Homo sapiens: one gene and its partners. The protein of the gene in region 2 purifies or fractionates together with the protein of the main gene of each other region. This does not show direct contact. Each region holds a gene or a part of one and is shown on either strand. Other genes may lie near its edges. The genes, in order: PTGES2, H2AP, SCCPDH, CCDC51, RAB5A, NCEH1 and SYMPK.

What was found.
Region 1: the proteins of H2AP (region 2) and PTGES2 purify together in Homo sapiens (affinity purification with mass spectrometry; one large-scale study listed by BioGRID and IntAct). This does not show direct contact.
Region 3: the proteins of H2AP (region 2) and SCCPDH purify together in Homo sapiens (affinity purification with mass spectrometry; one large-scale study listed by BioGRID and IntAct). This does not show direct contact.
Region 4: the proteins of H2AP (region 2) and CCDC51 purify together in Homo sapiens (affinity purification with mass spectrometry; one large-scale study listed by BioGRID and IntAct). This does not show direct contact.
Region 5: the proteins of H2AP (region 2) and RAB5A purify together in Homo sapiens (affinity purification with mass spectrometry; one large-scale study listed by BioGRID and IntAct). This does not show direct contact.
Region 6: the proteins of H2AP (region 2) and NCEH1 purify together in Homo sapiens (affinity purification with mass spectrometry; one large-scale study listed by BioGRID and IntAct). This does not show direct contact.
Region 7: the proteins of H2AP (region 2) and SYMPK purify together in Homo sapiens (affinity purification with mass spectrometry; one large-scale study listed by BioGRID and IntAct). This does not show direct contact.

The regions. Positions count from the first base shown.
Region 1 is NC_000009.12:128,120,193-128,122,461, reverse strand, and holds the end of PTGES2 (prostaglandin E synthase 2), read left to right. Parts: coding exon 1-100; intron 101-1,188; coding exon 1,189-1,317; 3' UTR 1,318-1,769; downstream 1,770-2,269. UniProt on the Homo sapiens protein: Isomerase that catalyzes the conversion of PGH2 into the more stable prostaglandin E2 (PGE2) (in vitro). The biological function and the GSH-dependent property of PTGES2 is still under debate.
Region 2 is NC_000023.11:37,989,603-37,991,814, reverse strand, and holds H2AP (huntingtin-interacting protein M), read right to left. Parts: upstream 1,037-2,212; 5' UTR 976-1,036; coding exon 622-975; 3' UTR 501-621; downstream 1-500.
Region 3 is NC_000001.11:246,727,409-246,730,908, reverse strand, and holds part of SCCPDH (saccharopine dehydrogenase-like oxidoreductase), read right to left. Parts: intron 1-3,500.
Region 4 is NC_000003.12:48,434,397-48,437,119, reverse strand, and holds part of CCDC51 (mitochondrial potassium channel), read left to right. Parts: intron 1-1,983; 5' UTR 1,984-1,991; coding exon 1,992-2,303; intron 2,304-2,723.
Region 5 is NC_000003.12:19,971,097-19,974,596, forward strand, and holds part of RAB5A (ras-related protein Rab-5A), read left to right. Parts: intron 1-3,500. UniProt on the Homo sapiens protein: The small GTPases Rab are key regulators of intracellular membrane trafficking, from the formation of transport vesicles to their fusion with membranes.
Region 6 is NC_000003.12:172,701,068-172,704,567, forward strand, and holds part of NCEH1 (neutral cholesterol ester hydrolase 1), read right to left. Parts: intron 1-3,500.
Region 7 is NC_000019.10:45,828,648-45,832,147, reverse strand, and holds part of SYMPK (symplekin), read left to right. Parts: intron 1-559; coding exon 560-764; intron 765-1,943; coding exon 1,944-2,094; intron 2,095-2,942; coding exon 2,943-3,178; intron 3,179-3,500. UniProt on the Homo sapiens protein: Scaffold protein that functions as a component of a multimolecular complex involved in histone mRNA 3'-end processing. Specific component of the tight junction (TJ) plaque, but might not be an exclusively junctional component. May have a house-keeping rule.

The DNA of each region.
Region 1 (2,269 bases), on a different chromosome or scaffold from region 2:
CGTGCGCGAGGACCTCTATGAGGCTGCTGACAAGTGGGTGGCTGCTGTGGGCAAGGACCGGCCCTTCATGGGGGGCCAGAAGCCGAATCTCGCTGATTTGGTGAGTGTGGTGGTGGCAGGTGGTGCCTGGACCGAGGGTTCTGTCCTCAGAGTGGGGGAGGTTTGCAAGGGAAAGCCTGGACGGTGCTTGCATCTTGCCAGAGGAACCTGCCTCTCTCTGCCATCACGGACAGAAACTCGCCTCGAAGTGGCTCCAGGAGAGAAACAGATGACCAGGAACCGCCTTGGTTCACATAACTGACAAGTTCAGGGAACGGGTTGGCTTCGGGCCCTGCTGGATCCAGAGGCCCGGGTGGTGTTACCAGAGCCCAAGCTCTACCTGTCGCCATCAACACTGCCCTCCCTGGAGTTGGCTTCAGCCTCAGGCGGGCTGGGTCCGGTGCTCCAGGCTTCTCCCAGAAAACCCCTGGGAGGGCGTCTCACTGGCCTGGCTTCACTGCCCTTTTTCCTTTTGTTTTTTTTTGTTGTTGTTGTTTTTGTTTTTTTTTTGAGACCAAGTCTCACGCTGTCACCCAGGCGGGAGTGCAGCGGTGCAGTCTTGGCTCGCTGCAACCTCCGCCTCCCAGGTTCAAGCAATTCTTCTGCCTCAGCCTCCTGAGTAGCTGGGATTACAGGCCTGTGCCACCATGCCCGGCTAATTTTTGAATTTTTAGTAGAGACAGAGTTTCAGTATGTTGGTCAGGCTGGTCTCGAACTCCTGACCGCAGGTGATCCATCCACTTTGGCCTCCCAAAGTGCTGGGACTACAGGCGTGAGCCAGCGTGCCTGGCCCACTGCTCATTTTTAAAACTGTCCTGCCCCTGGGTGACCTGGGTCTTGAAACTGGGTGGTGGGGTCTCTTCTCCCCCATCTCAGGACCTGAGATGAGGGGAGGGCATTTATCCCAAGGAAACTTGCTGGGGGGCAGGGTCTGTGGCCCAGAAAAGGGGGTACAGATGTGAAGCAGGCGAGACCTGCAGCCACCCCACATGCTTTGTTCAAACCCTCACCTGTGCTGTTGGCCCTTGAGTGGGTCACGAGCTCCAAGGGGGGAGGGGACGGGACCTGGCCACACAGCTGGCAGGGAACGAAGGAGGTCTGGATGCCTGTCAAACCAGCTATGGTGACACGTTTCTGTTCGTGCCCCAGGCGGTGTATGGCGTGCTGCGTGTGATGGAGGGGCTGGATGCGTTCGATGACCTGATGCAGCACACGCACATCCAGCCCTGGTACCTGCGGGTGGAGAGGGCCATCACCGAGGCCTCCCCAGCGCACTGAATGTCCCCGCGCAGAGCAGAGGGAAGGCAGCGGAAGACGCCAGCTGCCAGGGCCTGGGGCCACTGGGCCAGCGCCTGGCGATACTGGTTGGGGGCAGGATCATTCTGCCCCTTGTCCACGCACCCCCACCAGCCCTCTCGCTTCTAACACAGGGCACCTGCTGGGGCTCAGGGATGTTAGGGACGAGTTCCAGCCCTGCCACTGCCCTGGGGCGACCCCTCCCTGTCCCTGCCTCCCTGCTCTGCCGCCCCTCTTCCTGGACCCTCAGTGGCTGTCCCATGGCTACATCCTGTGGGTGGGGGCCCTCGACAGGACAGCAGGACGGTTTGTTTTCAGTGGAATCCCATCCCTGGGTTCCCCTGGTTCCCACTCTTCCCAAGCCTCCCGGGACTGGGACATGTTTGCAATAAAGGAAAGGTTTGTGGCGCCTGTCATGGCAGGCATCTCATGGAGCTCCGTGTGGCTGAGTGCTGCGTGGGGCTGGCGGTCAAGGGAGGCATCAGGCTTGGGCTGTGCCAGCCCTTGTGGTAACTAACCGCTGGCCTGGGGCTTCCCAGGTGTCAGGCACGGTACGGCTCCGCAGGCTTTGTGTGGCATCGTCCCCAGGATACCACTCAGGGCACACAGCTGGGCCGTGGAGCCCAGCAGCCAGAGTGCAGGTCGGGGCACCCTACCCACGGTGGGGCTCTGCAGTGGGGTCACTCATCAAGCCTCAGTTTCTTCGTCTGTCCCCGCCTTGTGGGAGAGTTCAGTGATAGGAGCAGGTGCAGTGCACAGAGCCGGGTCACCTGGTCCAGGGCACCAGGCTATTCAGACCCCTGCTCTACAGACAGAACCAAGCCCTCTCAGGTGGCGGCCCCGGGCTTCAGCTCCAGGCTGGGCCAGGCTTTATGGGAGAAGAGGCTCTGCCTTCCAGGGTGAGTGTGGGTTGTGGGTGGGACCCCCTTTCCTG
Region 2 (2,212 bases):
TTTCTTTTTTGCATTTTTCATGATGGTTTCTCCTTCACTCTTCAATCTCCATGTAAAGCCCCTGTCCCATGAACTTCATGCCAGCCAGTGTGCCCCTCTCCACCCACCCCTGTGGCCACCGCCCTCTGACTTCAGACCTTTGCTATCCTGAATAAAGCCTCCTGCACCTCAGTCAGAGTCTGCAGCTCCACCTCAGGCCCCAGCATCAGGCTGGGAATTCAACAAGCCTCAGAGGCCCCCAGCCAACTCCCTGGCCTCACAAGGCCTTCCTGTTCAGAGACAATGAGGAAGTCTCGGTGTCTTTATCCCAGCCAGTTCCTCCCCACAGGGCCGGCGCCCTCACTGTCACCATTGGAAACTGCCCCCTCTAAATCACTGATTCAAACACCACACTGGCCACCCCTTCCCCGCCTTCAGCTCTCTGGGGATAGCTTCCCCTGGATGTCTTACAGACACCTACAACCCAAAGCGACAGAAACTGAGAGGAGTCAGAAACATACTCATGGATTTACATCCTTTAATAGCACTTGTTGATGACAACAGCAGATATTCCTCAGCTGTGACACATTTTTGCCCTGGCTAAGCCTGTGAGGTTCCCTTCAAGGCTCTGGGACCCAGTCTTCAGTCATTCTTCCTGGATTTGGGCATCTCATCAAACAAAAAGCGAGTCACATCACTCTCAGCGCTGTGGGGCTCACGGTTGTTGTCCACTTCTCTCTCCCTATCTTGTGAAGTGTTGCGCATACTGCCATTGTTGCTGGCCTCCAAGCCTACCCGCTCCATGATGTAGTCAGCAAGGCAATCGAGCAAGGTAAGGAGGGTATTTATTGTGGAGGAACTCTGGCTTTGGACGTCTCGTTCATCTTGCACAACGCGGTCCACGAAGCTCCTAGGGACCTGTAGCTCATTTCTAGAAGGGTCTTGAGTCTGGTTGTTATTTGTAGACGAGTTCTTACAGTTCTTTTTCTCTGACATGATGTTTGCTGGGTTTGGCTCTCATCAGCTCTGCTTGATTCTCTAGCTCAAGTAGGTCTCTGAGGACACTAGTGCTTAGTCCTGCCTATTGTATCCCTCTGCTCCAGGCCCTTATTGGTCAGGGAGCTAGCTGCCTTTGTGACATCCCTAGACTTTGTGATTTCATTGGTGTCCACTGGTCCCTTATCAGACCTCAGCCTAGAAATGTCTATGACACTGATCTAGTCACGCTAATGACTGAACCTTGATTTTGAGGGAACTATAACTCTCTACCTGATTTTGACATTATAAAAATAAATGTGTGCTTCAGTGGAAAACTTTGCTCTGTCTTTAGGACACCACTGCAGGTTATCTGATTCCAGCCTTACATTATCTGTGAAGTCTTTTATAGCCTTTTGTTAGTTGTAGGCTGCTGATACATGTACAGCATATTCTTTAGTAGAGGTTCGGTTGTTCTTCACCTTATGAAACCAGTTTTGCCTCCATTTACACAATCATTTAATATTACTGATGAATATTCCCATATCAACTCTTTGGTTTCCCTTTTGAAGCAGTCATAACATCTTTTTCTTTTAGCATGTGTTCATTTCATATCTGTATGAGTGTCATGATTTTACCCCATTTGAAAAATATATTTTAGTCATTTTTCAATTAATAATAAGATGCTCAGCCGGGCGCAGTGGCTCACTCCTGTAATCCCAGCACTGTGGGAGGCAGAGGTGGGTGGATCACAAGGTCAGGAGATCGAGACCACAGTTAAACCCCGTCTCTACTAAAAATAAAAATAAAAATAAAAATAATTAGCCGGGCGTGGTGGCGGGCGCCTGTAGTCCCAGCTACTTGGGAGGCTGAGGCCAGAGAATGGTGTGAACCCGGGAAGTGGAGTTTGCAGTGAGCCGAGATCGTGCCACCACACTCCAGCCTGGGAGACAGAGCGGGACTCGGTCTCAAAAATAATAATAATAATAAGATGTTCAATAAGTTTACCTGTCAGTGCCAGGTAAACAGTTGATAGAGAAGTGCATCTTGTGCTCAGTTTAAGCCCAGATGTGTATTTCTTGTCCCTCCTAGGTGAAGCCAAAGCACTAAGAGATGTTTCTTTTCTATTATTTAATTTTCTTCTCTACTAATTCTGTGTTTTCCCTTTGACTTTGGTTCATTTACAGCCAATAACTTTGCCATTCCACAAGGGAAAAAGTGGAAAGAAAAAGGAGTCTCAAATCCAAGCATTTTCAAA
Region 3 (3,500 bases), on a different chromosome or scaffold from region 2:
TTTTGTATTTTTAGTAGAGACAGGGTTTCACCATGTTGGCCAGGCTGGTCTCAAACTCCCGACCTCAAGTGATCTGCCCACCTCAGCCTCCCAGAGGTTTGGGATTCCAGGCATGACCCACCGCGCCTGGCCCTCAAAGTTCCATCTTCTAACCCAGTGGTCTCCCAAGTAGTCTTCCCCTAAGGGAAGCGCAGAATGATCCACTGAGGGTGGAAGTAAATATCAGAACTTTTATCCATGTTAATGTTTACAAAAACATGACGTTCCGTTAACGGTTACTATATGGACTGACTACGAGACATTCCCTGGGCCATGTTAAGTGGTCATGTGTTGAAGACAGGACACAGCAGGTATCCTGATGGGGTTGTGGGAAAGTTTCCATCACACAGAGAGGGCCTCAGCACCACTCTTCATTCATTCAGTCGTTTTCACTTTACTGCAACCTAATGCCTGAATGAGGTTATTGAGGTTCTAAAGCTTAAACGCTGAGGCCTCAAGCATTTAGAGTGGGGAGGACAAAGACGCAGTGGAGGAGACGAGGACTTCCAGGGTGAAGCTGGTGGACAGGAGGAAAACTACGAGAAGATGACAACGTAGAAGCTGAGCAAAGAAAGGAGAAAGTGGTCAGCTGGATCGAATGCTGCAAGCTTTCAGATGAAGACTGGATTTGACAGGGTGGGACTTTAGCAGAGTAGTTTCATTGGAGGAGGGAGGAAAACAAAAGCCCAATAGGAGGCGTTTAAGATAGAGTAGGAGGTGAAGAAGCAGAGATAGTGAGTCATGAGAATTCTTCCAAGGAGGCTGCTAAAAAGGGGGCACAAAAAGTAGAGTAGTTGGAAGGGTATGTGGAATCAAGCAGCTTTTTTTAAAATATGGGAGATATCACATATTTAAATGCTGATTGAAATAATCCAGTAAAGAGGAGAAATTTGATAACAAGATAATGTGTAATTGTAAACATAAAGTGTTACAGGAAGTCAGGGACCCCGAACAGAGGGACCAGCTGAAGCCACGGCAGAAGAACATAAACTGTGAAGATTTCATGGACATTTATTAGTTCCCCAAATTAATACTTTTATAATTTCTTACACCTGTCTTTACTGCAATCTCTGGACATAAATTGTGAAGATTTCATGGACATTTATCACTTCCCCAATCAATACTGTTATAATTTCCTATGCCTGTCTTTAATCTCTTAATCCTGTCATCTTTGTAAGCTGAGGATGTATGTTGCCTCAGGACCCTGTGATGATTGAGTTATCCGTACAAACTGTAAAACATGTGTCTTTGAACAATATGAAATCTGGGCATCCTAAAAAAGGAAGAGGATAACAGCAATTTTCAGGGAACAAGGGAGATAACCATAATGTCTGACTGCCTGCGCGACTGGGCAGAAGAGAGTCATATTTCTCTTCTTGCAGAAAGCGAATAGGAGAAATATCACTGAATTCTTTTCCCAGCAAGGAATAACCCTGGGAAAGGAATGCATTCCCAGGGGGAGGTCTCTAAAATGGCCGCTCTGGGAGTGTCTGTCTTATGCAGTTGAAGATAAGGGATGAAATACACCCTGGTCTCCTGCAGCACCCTCAGGCTTGCTAGGATTAGGAAATTCCAGTCTGGCAAATTCTAGTCAAACTGGTTGTCTGCTCTCGTACCCTGTTTCCTGTTAAGATGTTTATCAATGACAGTGCGTGCCCAGCGGGACATGGAACCTCATCAGTAATTCTAATTTTGCCCTGGCCTTGTGATCTTGCTCTGCCATTTGCATTGTGATACCGTATTGCCTTTTGAAGCATGTGATCTCTGTGACCCACTCCCTATTTGTACACTCCCTCCCCTTTTGAAATCCCTAATAAAAACTTGCTGGTTTTGCAGCTCAAGGGGCACCACGGAACCTGTCAACAAGTGATGTCACCCCCAGAGGCCCAGCTGTAAAATTTCTCTTTGTACTCTTTCTCTTTATTTCTCAGACTGGCTGACACTTAGGGAAAATAGAAAAGAACCTATGTTGAAATACTGGGGGCTGGTTCCCCCGATAATAAAGTCTTTGAAAACTGTGCCCAATAGGAAGAGGACCAGTTTTTCCTTGTAACAAGAGATATGGCAGACTACAGGGTATGATGCAGATTGGCAGACAGGTAGGTAGGTAGATAGATCTGGTGGTAGGAAGATGAAGAAAGAAATTCTGTTATTAACCAGCTTCTATTTTCATAGTTAAAAAAAAAGAAAAATAAAATCAGATAAGAACAAGGAAAGAGAGACGGGATACTAAAAGTTCAAGGAAAACAAGGTTGTGAGCTGCTTCAGAGAGCAGGAGAGAGAATTCCTGAGGGAAATAGAGCAGAGCTGCCGGAGGTGCTAAGCACCACACAACGTTTGTAAACACATATTTGAAGTGTGACCAGTTAGCAGGGGGATACATTTTTCTCCAGCCACACTGTGTTACTCATGTTCAGGTGAAGAGCAGGCAGAGAATAACCAGGGCTGGGATTTTTCCAGAGTACTGAGGAGAAAAAGGCAAGGGAGATAGATGAGGGCGTCCATTATAGAGTGCAGCAGTGGACCTCATGGATGGAATCTAAGCTAGTTAAGAATGAGATGAATCTAAATCAACAACACTTCTATTTAATAGCAATTCAAAAACCCTTTTGCTCTCAATTAAAAATTATTAATATTTTAGATATTTAATTTTTAAACATCTTGCCAACTGTGATGGCTTCTTCAGATCACTAAATGTCACCAACATTCACCTTGTTACACAGGCCAAAAGTCTGATGGCCTGTGACTTGATGACTTTTTCACAGTACAACAGCAAAAGCCGTTCTCCTTTGAAAATATACTCTGGACCTAACTACTTCTCAGCACCACTACGACCCCAGGGCTTGTGCTTGCACCATTCCATTGCTCATCCTTTGTTATCTACTTTTCCACTCAGAAGCCAAAGAACTTCCAATTTAAATCAGCTGAAGCCCTTCCTTTCAACCATTCAACGCCTCTTGGTCACACCTGGAAAAAAAATCCACATCCTGGCCATGGCCCGTAAGATCCCACATGACCCAGCTCCCGGGTTGCTCTCTGATCCACTCTCCACCTCTCTGCCATGCCCAGCCACACTGGCCTCTGTCACACTCTTCAGTCTTGCCAAGCACACTGGCATCTCAGGACCTTTGTGCCTGCTGTCCCTGGAAAAGTCTCTCCTCAAAAGGTTCATGCAATTTGCTCTCATTTCATTCAGATCTTGGCTCAAATGTCAATTCCTCACAGAAACCTTCCCTGACCATCCATCTAAAAACACCAATATGCCAGGACCTTTTCTCCTTTCTTGGCTTCACTTTTCTTCAAAGCACTTTTCATTACCTCCTATTACAATCCTATTTTTCTGTCTTCCCCAAGAACGTAATGTCCACGAGGGATTTTCTGTTTTGTTCACCATTGTGTCCCAGGTGCCTACAATAGTGCATTTCACATGTGGTAAGCATCAATAAATATTTATTCAATAA
Region 4 (2,723 bases), on a different chromosome or scaffold from region 2:
TGAGCCGAGTAGACTCGTGGAGGAAGAGTCATCCAGCTGGACAAGGTGGCAGGGCACAGACCAGCACGGTGGCTGGAGCAGAGTATGGCAGTAGAAGGAAGAGGATGAGGGCTGAGAGGTCTCAGGATTTCTTGGCCACCGCCAGGTGAAATGGGAGCTGTTGGGGGATTTTGATCAGAGGGATGTAATCTGATTTTTGTGTTACAGGGCCTTGGGCTGCCATGTGCAGAACATGGGGGTGGGGGACGGCAGGGGAGAAAGCCGAGATTGCATAGGAGACAGTAGCTGTCATCTCTGCCAGGAATGGGTGACTTTGCTGGGGTCTAAAAATGGGCAGCTAGTAGAGGAGGTGCTGGGAAAGGAGGCTGAGAAGGTTGGAGGAAGCCAAGAGGGGCAGTGATGTTGGGAAGAGAGGGTGTTGAAAGTGGTGCCAGCCATGGCGGACACTGCATGCTTTGTCTGATGAAGGATACACCTGCAGGGGTGTTATAGGATCTCAGCCTGTGTGTCATGGGTGCTGGCCTTGAGGCCTGGGAGTCTGACTGGGCTGCTGGGGCCTGGATGGTATGCACCCTCATGGGCATGGAACCCAGCCTTATGAAGGGGGCCCAGGGGTTTGGGTGTGGCACCAGCTTGGGATCACTGTCACAGTGAAGTTCCCTTCTGCGGCTCTCAGCTCAGGCCCACTTTGCCCAGAAGACATGTTTCTACCCAACCAGCTGTGTTTTCAAAGCCGCTGAGCTTCTCCAAAGACAGTTCTTAGCACAGCATGATGGAGAGGAGGCTAGGGTGCTGTGGGGAGCCTCTGTCTCATATCACCTTCCATCAGGAAGCCCCTTTCTATTCTGTATCTGGAGCTCCTTCAGTTCCTTCCTGTCTGCAGCTCCCTCTGCTTTTCTCTCTGTGGCGTGGTCTGTTGGCCACCAGGTGTCGCTCTCACAGCCAGGATCAGTGCTTAGGGACTTTGAGGTGTGGTTTGGCCAGAGGAGGGTGCTGTTGGCTCAGCTTTTTCTGGGAAAATGGGTCACCTGGCCACCTCTTTGGGGTCCTCAGAGTCACTGGCACTCTTGGGCTCAGGTGAGGCCTGATTCTGGATAACAGGAGACTCCCTGCTGTCCAGGTAATGAGAAGCAGGCCCAAACATCAAAGCAAGATGGAAAAGGGAAAGATGAGAGAAACCTAACCTGTTGAGCAATGGCAGGTTGGAGAGGAAAGAGAAAGCTTATGGAAGTCGTGAAGTGTGAGACTGAGAGTTGGTAGCCTGGAAAGTCTGGGGGCGGAGTTGTATGGCGTGAACCTAAGAAAAGTCCTCTGTGGCAAAAACAGTTTTGTTTTGTTTTTTTTTGCCCCTGGAATTATCTTAGAGGAGAGCTGAGAGTTTTCTGTCTTGGGTCACAAATGGCCTGTGTCCTTAGGTCCTTGCACAGAATTGAAACTCTGCTTCCCTTGTGCTGAGGCAGTCCTTGGAGAGTCTGGGGAGTTGGTTTTGAGGCTGTTTTACAGAAATGATCCTGGATCTTAGTCTTCCTGAATTCCCCTGAGTTCCACAACATTGCAGGGAGTATTTATGCGTCTTTGTGGGGCTTTGTCAGCATGTGTACAAGTCTGGTTTAAAAACTGTCTTTGACATCAGAAACCTGGGCACCAGGATTCTCATTCAAGTCACAGCAGAGAGACCTGGAGGATGTAGGGAAGTGGGTAGCAGGGAAGGGTCCGCTTTGTGTGGCATGGTGGCGGGCACTGGAAGGTATGGCATCCTAGAGGCTCGTCCCCAACTGTGTTCCATTGTCCAAGAGCACCCAGAGGAGAGCCTGACCATCCTCTTGCCACAGGGGCCACAGTCTCTGGGCCCAACAGGGTGGTGCTCAGTTTAGATGATTTGAGTGGGGATTAGTCTGTTCAGAACTGTCCCTAGGCCTCAAAACTGACTTATGTCCAGCCTTTCTCAGCTGTGAGCTGACCTGTCTGGCGTCCCCCTCACAGATCTCAGGATGATGGGGCGCAGCCCTGGGTTTGCCATGCAGCACATCGTGGGTGTGCCCCACGTACTGGTTCGGAGGGGCCTCCTTGGAAGGGACCTCTTCATGACCAGGACTCTCTGCAGCCCAGGCCCAAGCCAGCCCGGAGAGAAAAGACCTGAGGAGGTGGCCCTGGGGCTGCACCACCGCCTCCCAGCACTGGGAAGAGCCCTGGGGCACAGCATTCAGCAACGAGCGACCTCCACAGCCAAGACTTGGTGGGACAGATATGAAGAGTTTGTTGGACTCAACGAGGTTCGAGAGGCCCAGGGAAAGGTGACAGAGGTGAGGAGGGGAGCTGGGGTGGCTGGCCCCGCCCTCTGACTTGGGAAATGTGCCAAACCAGTCACGTGGTGCTGGGTAGCCACATCCAGACTTGTGTTTAGCCTCATTTCTCACGTGGAAACCTGGGCTTGATGCTTCTGGGGTGAAGGTCTCCATGTAACTGTGCCACCTACTTTCCCCGAAAACAGTTACTGTGTACCAGTAAGTCCCTGGCCACTAACATCCACTCTGTGAGGCCAGCAAATACTTCCTTTGTGGACCATTTGGGGATTGATGGTGAGAGTTACGTGGGGCTTGCTGCGGTACTGTTACTGTGTGTAATTACAACATCTTTTGTGAAGATAGAGGGCACTAGGAAATGTCACAGTGTGAGGTGGAAAGAGCTGGTGGTGGTTGTCAAGTCCTTTGTGGTGGCAGAAA
Region 5 (3,500 bases), on a different chromosome or scaffold from region 2:
TGAGGCAGGAGAATCACTCGAACCCAGGAAGCGGAGGTTTCAGTGAGCCGAGATCGCGCCATTGCACTCCAGCCTGGGCAACAAGAGCTAAACTCCATCTCAAAAAAAAAAAAAAAAAACACTATAGTAGTATTTTAAAACTTTAGGACTTTGAGAAATCATGAACGTCTTAGGGTGTATTATGTATATCAAGAGTTTATTATAGTGGGCTACACTATTCCAGTAATATTTCTGTTCATTTAGTACTGTAGCACTTTTCATTTTTTAAAGTATATTATAAAACTGATTTTCCCTGGCCTCTAATGTTGGTCTTTTCTCCCCCAAAATTATGCTTTATCATACCACATGAACAGTAGTACGGTGGTGGTGGTGGTGGTGGTGGTTGTTGTTTTGAGACAGAGTTACACTCTTGTTGCCCAGGCTGGAGAGCAATGGCACAATCTCAGCTCACTGCAACCTCTGCCTCCCGAGTTCAAGTGATTCTCCTGCCTCAGCCTTCCGAGTAGCTGGGGTTACAGGCATGCACCACCATGCCTGGCTAATTGTTTTTGTATTTTTAGTAGAGACGAGGTTTCGCCATACCGGTCAGGCTGGTCTCAAACTCCTGACCTCAGGTGATCCACCTGCCTCGGCCTCCCAAAGTGCTGGGATTACAGGTGGAAGCCACCGCACCTGGCCCAGTACAGTGTTATCAGGTGAAAAATATCTTGATGTTGTTTTTGAGGTTGTGTTACAACTTGAGTAGATACCTTGTGAAATATCTATTTTTTCACATTTGGGAGCTGCCTCTCTCTACATTCAAATGTTATCTGAAGTAGCCTCTAAATGGTTCCATGTATCTTTTTGAACTTCCTTCTTTTAGTAGACATTTTTGAACATCTGTATGAACAAGGATTTATATTAAATGTTGGTACAGAGAGGAGCTACTACAAGTTGAGCATCCCTAATCTGAAGTCTGAAATGCTCCCAAATTCTTCGAGCATCAATATGATGTCACAAGTGAACAATTTCCACACTTAACACCTTTGCTTTCTGATGAGTCAGTGTACATAAACTTGGTTTAATGCACAAAATTATTTTAGCTTCAGGCTATGTGTACAAGCTTTATGTGAAACAAACGAATTTCATGTTTTGACTTGGATCCCTTCCCAAAAATATCTCATTATGCAAATATTACAAAATCTTTAAAAATCCAAAACATTCCTGGTTCCAAGCATTTCAGATAAGGGATACTTAACCTGTGGTCATTGCTCAAGTAACTCCCAATCAAGGAGAAGAAAAAGATATAAACCAATGATTATAAAAGGTGTGAAACGTTATTACACAGAGAACTCTGGGAGCACAGATGTAGGAGATATTAACTAGGGTGGAATGAAGGAAGGTTTCTAAGCAGAGTTGAGGAATGAATTGATTATCTTCTTTGTTAATCTGAATGGGATCCATTCCTGTTCAGCATGATTTCCCTTGGTTTTGTTCCTAGATTTAGGAATGATGCCCTGTTTTGCCATAAGGAAGAATCTCGTGTGTTTATTAGGAATGGATATTGACTCAAATGCCTTTTTGTAATTTGTTTAAATAAAATGGATTTTTCTTCATTAGCCTGTTAATGTAATAGTTTTGTATTTCTGAAAGAATGTACTTGGTAATGGGCATTTGTTTGTCTTAATGTATTTGTTGCAATTTCTTTGTATTTGGCATTTTTGTACATGTATGGTGTACATGTATGGTGGCCTCTTGTGTCTTTAACTGGCTTGAGAATTGGATCATATTTTCTTTAAGGCAACATCTCTAATACAGTTGGCCCTCTGAATCTGTGAGTTCCACATTTATAAATGCAACCAACTGCAAGTTGAAAATATTAAGGGGGAAAAAATTAACTTAGCTCCAAAAAGCAAAAATTAAATTTGCCACACACTTAATACTATGTTGAATCTATGTGGATGACGTGAGGTGCAGGCATTGTATTAGATATTATAAGTAATCTAGAGATGCTTTAAAGTATACAGGAGGATGTGCTTAGGTTATATACACATACTTTGCAATTTTATATCGGGGACTTGAGCATCCTCAGATTTTGTTATCCATTGGGGATTCTAGAACCAGTCCTTCATGATATATGGGGAGGTCCTGGAAACAGTCCTCCACAGATACTGAGGGATGACTATAGTTATTTCCCTGAGCCTGAAGTTTACTTATGGACGTATAAGTGAATGTTTTTAGTACTAGTAGACTTTGTGATCATAGTATGTCTGAAAAATGAAACAGTCTGTGCACATTTTAATTCCTTTTTTTTTTTTTGCAAGTCTGCATCAAACTATACTTGAAAAAAGGCTTATGTATTGTGACTTATTTTCCTCTTTTCCTTTTTGGTAAGAGTACTGTCTTAGGGACTTAATTTTAGTTTAAAATTTTAGTTTAAAAACATTTTTTGATCCTACAGGAGAACCTCTCGTGACCTTCAAAAAGTGACATAGTGCTGTCTGGATATCCTTTACCATAAATACAATATTTTAGAAAATGGACAATTCTGCTAATTGTTGGTTAAAAAAAAGTTTGAACTGGATTAGAATATATTTACAATGTGATTAATGAGAATTCATAAAACTATTAATTAGAATCTAGGTCCAAATGAAGATGTTTACAGTATTGTTTGCAAAATTCAGAAGATTTTAGTTGTTGATACTAAAGCCAGCAACCAGTTAACCTAAAAGAGCGTGAAAAATAAATGTTGTGTCTAACGTAAAAGAGATATATCTCATTAGACTTTGTTTCTTTAGCACATTTGATACTGGTTAGTACATCTCTATCAACGTCACTAGATAAACGGCTGTAATTTAGAGAAATATATCATAATTCTTTTGCATAATATGACAGTTTTAGAAAATGGTAATTCAAGTGCATACCAATTTGGAAATAGGGCTTGAATATCACACCTTGAGCTAAATGTAGAAGGAAGGGAGGAGCATACCAATTTACAGTGAATGATAGAGCAGCAGCAGAGGGCGGTCTAATGGCTGTGTGTAGGTCTTTTAATTTTAACAATATTGTATCATTTTATAATGCTACTTTTTTTTTTTTTTTGAGACAGAGTCTCTGTTGCCAGGATGGAGTGCAGTGGTGCGATCTCAGCTCACTGCAACCTCTGCCTCATGGGTTCAAACGACTCTCCTGCCTCAGCCTCCCGAGTAACCGGAACCACAGGCAAGCGCCACCATGTCGAGCTAATTTTTGTATTTTTAGTAGAGACAGGGTTTCACCATGTTGGCCAGGATGGTCTTGATCTCCTGACCTCGTGATTTGCCTTCCTCAGCCTCCCAGAGTGCTGGGATTACAGGCATGAGCCACCACGCCTGGCCTATAATGCTACTTTCCTAGTGTTAAAATTAGAATCAGGGAAAGTACAGATCCAAAAAATTCTTATGGCAGGGAATGAAAGGTAGGAGCAAATATTGAATCAACTGAACAAATTAAATCTAGGTTAAGGTAATAATGACTACCAC
Region 6 (3,500 bases), on a different chromosome or scaffold from region 2:
TTCAACTACTTCTGCCACTATCCATTTGCTGACTACTCCCAAATCCATATCACCAGCCCAGCTCTGTCTCCTGAGCTCTGGATCTGTATATGCAGCTGTTTATGATCAGCCATCCTTGGACTAGTCCACTGACACTTCAAAACAGGGTCCCAAACTCTATATCTTCACCCTCAGATCTGCTCTTGCTCCCAAATCAGGGTCATGGTCCCCATTCACCCAGCTATTCCAGAATCTGTCCCAGGAGTCATCTTTGACTCCTTCCTCTCCGATGCTCCATACTCTCCCCTCCAACAGCAACTCTGATCAGCTTTCCTCCAAATCAGTCCCACTTTGTTAGTTCATGCTCTCACCTGGATTAGTGCTTCCTAGATGGTCTTTTGCCTTTTTTTTTTTTTTTTTAAAGACGGAGTCTCCCTCTATTGCCCAGGCTGGAGTGCAGTGGTGCAATCTTGGCTGACTGCAACCTCCACCTCCCAGATTCAAGGGATTCTCCTGCCTCAGCCTCCCGAGTAGCTGGGACTACAGACGCGTGCCACCATGCCCAGCTAGTTTTTTTTTTTTTTTTTTTTTGTATTTTTAGTAGAGACTGGGTTTCACCATACCGGCCAGGCTGGTCTCAAACTCGTGACCTTGTGATCCGCCTGCCTCAGCCTCCCAAAGTGCTGGGATTACAGTTGTAAGCGACCACGCCTGGCCTACTTTTGCTTTCTTACATTCCAGTGTCTACACTGCCACTGAGAAGGACTATTCTAAAACACAGTTTTGAGCATGTGACTTCTCTGCTAGAAGACTGTCAGTTGCTCCTTTCTCCTCCACAGAGCTCTTCCTCACCTGACTGGTGCTTCCCTTCTGCCTCCCTCTCTGACCTTTGAACTTTAAGCTCCAGCCAGTCTAAACCACTTGTAGTTCCTCAGCTACACCATCCTCTCCCACAGAACTTTCACATACTGCTGCTTCTGGCTGGAATGCCCCTTTCACCCTTCTCTTCTCTGGTTTCTATTATAAGGAAATCTAGCACAAATCTAAACTCTTGAGTTCAGGAGTAACACAGGCTGGAATCGAATTCAGGCTCCACCTCGTATAAACGGTGTCATCTTAAGCAAGTCACTTTTCTTTGCATTTCGGTCTCCTCCTTTGTCACATAAAGAACACCTGCCTGATTGTATTACCATGGGCTAAACTAATTGAACACAAAGCACATAGCACAGTATCTGCCACAGAGTAAATGCTCACTATATGCTCAATAGATATTTTTACTATAGGCACTCAACCTTGACATCTCAGATTAGATACGTTTCCCCAGTGCCCAGGTCCACTTTAGATGTTCTTTCCAAGGCTCTTGCAGCAATCCACAGATGCCTCTATCATAATTCTCCTTCCATCATTCAAGTGCCCACCTTATCGCTGGCAGTTGGTTTATCATCCCTCACTTGACTGTAAGCTTCTCAAGATTAGGTATCTGCCTTACACATTTCTGTTTTGCCAGACCAGCTCCTTAATATTTAATATGTGATGACGTCCAGGGTTTTAATTTTATTAAACACTGAAAGAGAGCTTGTTAAAATTTCACAATATGACACACCTTAGATTAGGCAGGCGATATAGTCAGGTTTTTCACTTGAAAATTCAATTACAGGTAGGCACGGTGGCTTATGCCTGTGATCCCAGCACTTTGGGAAGCCAAAGCAAGAGGATCACTTGAGCCCAGGAGTTTGAGACCAGCCTGGGCAACATAGCAAGACTTTGTCTCTCCTAAAAAATAAAAAAAGAAAAATATAGCCAGGCATGGTGGCACGCGCCTGTAGTCCCAGCTACTCAAAAGGCTGAGGCAGGAGGATCCCTTGAGCCCAGAAGTTCAAGGTTGCAGTGAGCTGTGATCACACCACTGCATCCCTGCCTGGGTGACAGAGCAAGACCTTGTCTGTAAGAAAAAAATAAAAAGTAAAAAACGAAAATAAATTCAATTACATTTCTTCATTCTATATAAACATAAAATGAAAGAGAAGTGGTAGACAGTTCCCACATAATTTCATTTGGCAGCAAAAGTAAATATATGGTGCTCACTTCAGCAGCACATACACTAAAACCATAACAGTTCAGAGAGGACTAGCATGCCCCTGCAGAAGGATGACACACATTTGCAGTGTTACATATTTTCTTTAGAAAAGTAAATATGGCTGGGTGCAGTGGCTCACCCCTGTAATCCCAGCACTTTAGAAGGCCAAGGCGGGTGGATAACCTGAGGTCAGGAGTTTGAGACCAGCCTGGCCAACATGGTGAAACCCCATCCCTACAAAAATACAAAAAAAAATTAGCCGGGCATCATGGCGGGGGCCTGTAATCCCAGCTACTCGGGAGGCTGAGGCGGGAGAACTGCTTGAACCTGGGAGGCGGAGGTTGCAGTGAGCCGAGATCGCACCATTGCATTCCCGCCTGAGTGACAGAGCAAGACTCTGTCTCAAAAAAAAAAAAAAAAAAAGTAAATATATGCTATTTTAAAATGCTATTTTAAAAGAAGCAATTGTGCATAAAAAGAACATTTAAGAATGATTAACTGTACTTTCACACTTCACAGAAATGTCTCAGATCAAGCTCAAATTGCATGGTAGAAATAGGATGTCCCATTAAAATAATGAGGGTATTTCTATGCTCAGGGTTATATTTGTAGAAGTACCAGAAAAAATAAAAAGGAAACTATAAATTGGGCATTATCTTACACACCAGGTAGCTGAATCAATCTGACCTTAATGTTTCATAGGTACTATCTGCAGAGACCAACTCAGGTTGTTCACCTGTCAGAACTAACACTGATTAAATAATGCCCCTGACACTATTCTTAAAACCTTTTGCCTCCATATGTTTAAAGAAAAATCCTAGCAAATCAGCTAAAAATTGTGGTTAGTGAAGTTACTAATGTGCATGAAGAAATACGCATCATCATAATTTCTGGACAATCATTATTTACTGATGTTTTAAAGTTAAATTCACCTGACAATAGTAAATATTCCAGTTCAAAACTGTTATGAAAGAGATTATTAGCACGTTGAAGTTCTGCACAGTTTCCAGCTGAGCTGTCATTTAAACCACACCCACACAGCCCAAAAGCACATCATGCACAGAGAATTCAGGTGAGGTGACATTAAATCTCAACAAGTTTGGGGACATTTGGCAAGATAAAAATCCTTGATCAACTAGTCCAAAAGCACTGTCACCCATAAGAAACAGGGGGAACACTCAGCATAAATACCAATTTCAGCACTTCTTTTACATTGTGTCACTGAAAAGATTCATAGTGTAAGCAGTAGTAAGTTAGAAAATAATCAAGACAAGCCAGGCTCATGCTCCGAGCTCTCTTGGGACACCATTATTACCTTTAGCCACATTTTCCTTCCATCATTCAAGCACCTACCCTATCACTGGCAGTTGGTTTATCATCCTTCACTTGACTGTAAGCTTCTCAAGTTTAGGTTTCTGCCTTACACATTTCTGTTTTGCCAGAC
Region 7 (3,500 bases), on a different chromosome or scaffold from region 2:
CTGAGGGCTGGGCACAGTGGCTCATACCTGTAATCCCAGCACTTTGGAAGTCCAAGGCGGGAGGATCGCTTGAGCCCAGGAGTTCAAGACTAAGCTGGGCAACATATGGAGACCTCATCTCTACAAAAAAATACAAAAATTAGCTAGGTATGTTGGCATGCGCCTGTAGTCCCAGCTAGTTGGGAGGCTGAGAGGCTGAGGCAGGAGGATTGCTTGAGCCCAGGAGGTCAAGACTGCAGTGAGCCCTGATTGCACCACCGTACTCCAGCCTGGGTGACAGAGTGACACCCAGTCTAAAAAACAAAAACTGCTCATCATGTTTCCAAAGTGGCTGTAGCATTTGCTGCTCCCCCCAGCAATGAATGGCATTTCTAGTTTGAGCCTCAGTTGTATTGAAAAGTGGGGATAAAAAGAGTACCCACTCCAGGACAGTGTTGTGTGGATTTAAACGAGGTTTTGTGTGTACAGGGCTCAGAACAGAGCCAGGCACACAGGAGGTCCTCGGGTTGGAGCAGGTGGGTCTGACGCACTGGGTGTCTGTTTGCTGCCTCCCCCTCAGGTGTAGAGCAGACCAAACAGTGCAAGGAGGAGCCCAAGGAGGAGAAGGTGGTGAAGACAGAGAGCGTCCTGATCAAGCGGCGCCTGTCAGCCCAGGGCCAAGCCATCTCGGTGGTGGGTTCCCTGAGCTCCATGTCCCCCCTGGAGGAAGAGGCACCGCAGGCCAAGAGGAGGCCAGAGCCCATTATCCCTGTCACTCAGCCCCGGTGAGTCCTCTTCTGGGTGCTAGGGCAGGACAGGAGCCCTACCCTGAAGGTCTGGTTCTCAGCTCGTGTGCGTGTGCGTGTGCGTGTGCGTGTGTGTGTGTAACTGAGATGCAGACAGAAGGAAGTCTGGAATAGGTTCTCTCTGACTCCCGAGTCAGTGCCATAACCACTAAGCCTTTGCTGTTCTCTTTCCTGTAAAAAAAAAAAAAAAAAATCCTTTTTTATGTCTAAAATTAGGATAATGATAGTATCTTTCTCATAAGGATCAAAGAAGAATTAAATTAGTTCGTGGTAATGGTGATGGTTAGGTAACTAGATACTCGAGTGAAAAGTGATTGTGATTGTCAAGCATTTCGCGTGGTTCCTGTTGTGTAGTAAATGCTACTGGCTGTCATCATCATTGTCCCCATTATTACCTCCCTTACACACCACAAAATCCAGCCAGTCCCGGCCACCCAAGTCTTTTTATTATTTATTTATTTATTATTTTTTTTTGAGTCGGAGTCTCACTCTGTCTCCCAGGCTGGAGTGCAGTGGCGCGATCTCAGCTCACTGCAAGCTCCGCCTCCCGAGTTCATGCCATTCTCCTGCCTCAGCCTCCCGATTAGCTGGGACTACAGGCGCCCGCCACCACGCCTGGCTAATTTTTTGTATTTTTAGTAGAGACGGGGTTTCACCGTGTTAACCAGGATGGTCTCGATCTCCTGACCTCGTGATCCGCCTGCCTCAGCCTCCCAAAGTGTTGGGATTACAGGCGTGAGCCACCGTGCCCAGCCCCAAGTCTTACTAACACAGCTGAGCGGGATCTGCTACCCTCCGAGCTCTCTTCTGCTACCCTCACCCCTCCTCCACTCGTGCCCACAAGTCTGTTCCCACCTAAGGGCCTTTGCCTGGAGAGCTGGTCCCCCAGACATTTGTGTATCTTGTCCCTGCCTCCGTTCAGATCCCCACTCACAGAAGCCTTCCGTAAGACGCCCTCTGCAAAACCAAAATAACATCCTCTTCCTTCCTCTTACCCACCGCCACACCGTGCCTCAGAGACACAGAGGAACTGGAGAGGCAGCAGGGGGATGGGGGCCATCTCTGTTGCCTACCTAGTCCTTGAAGTTGGGAGAGTCACCAGACAGGCCTTTGCTGCAGTCTGGGTCACTGCATCTCTGTCACTGCTCTTCCACACAGGCTGGCAGGCGCTGGTGGGCGCAAGAAAATTTTCCGTCTCAGCGACGTGCTGAAGCCCCTTACCGATGCCCAGGTGGAAGCCATGAAGCTGGGCGCTGTGAAGCGGATCCTGCGGGCTGAGAAGGCTGTGGCCTGCAGCGGGGCAGCCCAGGTGTGCGCCTGCCACCCCCCACCCCATCCTTCCAGTCCCTCTACCCAAACGTCTACCTCACATCCAGCGAAGAGTCTGGCCCTGGCGTCAAACCTCCCTGGCTGCGGACCCCAGCTCTGCTGCCCACAGCCGCTTCTCCAGATCACTCCCATCCTCCATAAAACAGAGACAGTAGCAGCAGCTCCTCCTGGGTGACGAGGAGGAAATGTGCAATGAGCACAGGCACTCAGGTGCACAGGGCAGGTGCTGGGAGGCCTCTGCAAGTGAGGGCTGCTCTTGTGGTCTTGGTTCTTCACGGTTGTTAACGTTCTTACTGTTACTATTTAGCTTTAGAAATATACCTGGTTCTCTGTCCTGATTCTGCCACTTGCTGGCACTGTTACCTTCAAAGAATGGGGAAAAGTGACTTTTTCCCCATTCTGTGAAGTTAATTGTTGATTAGCCAGTAGTATAGGAACATACTCCCTGAGCTGAAAAATATTTCCGGGGAATCCAGATCCAGTACTCTTCCGTGGCCATCACCTGCACCCCATCCCTCTCTTCAAAGGTGACAAAGGCACAAATGAGGGGAATCTTTGAGGATCTTTTTCTGTGCACTTAAGTACATGGGTGCTGCTCCTAGAAACTCATTTTTATTCTGTGATGATCGATCCCCACCCTGGTACCCCCACCCCCCAACACACAAACGGGACCTTCCTAGGCATAAGGGTCCTCGGCTGGCCTTCCTCGCTTCACTCCTTGTCTGCTCTGAGAGTTCCTGCGTCTGGGTGGGAGAAGTCGCAGGGCACGATTGCGGAGTCCCTGGATTGCCCACCCTACACTGACATGCTGGCTCACCCTCCCACCAGGTCCGCATAAAGATCCTGGCCAGCCTGGTGACACAGTTCAACTCGGGCCTGAAGGCGGAGGTCCTGTCCTTCATCCTGGAGGATGTGCGGGCCCGCCTGGACCTGGCCTTCGCCTGGCTCTACCAGGAGTACAACGCCTACCTGGCCGCAGGTGCCTCGGGCTCCCTGGACAAGTATGAGGACTGCCTCATCCGCCTGTTGTCTGGCCTGCAGGAGAAACCAGACCAGAAGGATGGGTGAGGGGGCTGACCCTGCACCCTCCTGTCCCCGAGAGGCTTCCTCTCCTGGTGCTGCCCTCCCTTTCTGATTGCGACCACCTCCCTCTTCGTCACCCCCCGAGTCAGTCCTCCTCGCACCCATCCCAAGTCTCCTCTCCTCCTCCCCCTCTGGAGGCACGTTCAAGGTTGTAGTTTTGCATGTGGGCTCCAGGTCGCACTCCCTGAGCTGTTCCTCAGCTCTGCCACTTGCTCTGAGCTTGCTCTGCGTGGCTTTGTCACTCCCTCTCTCTGCCATTTTCCCATCTGTAAATAACAGTGCTCACCCATGGGCCTGGAGATA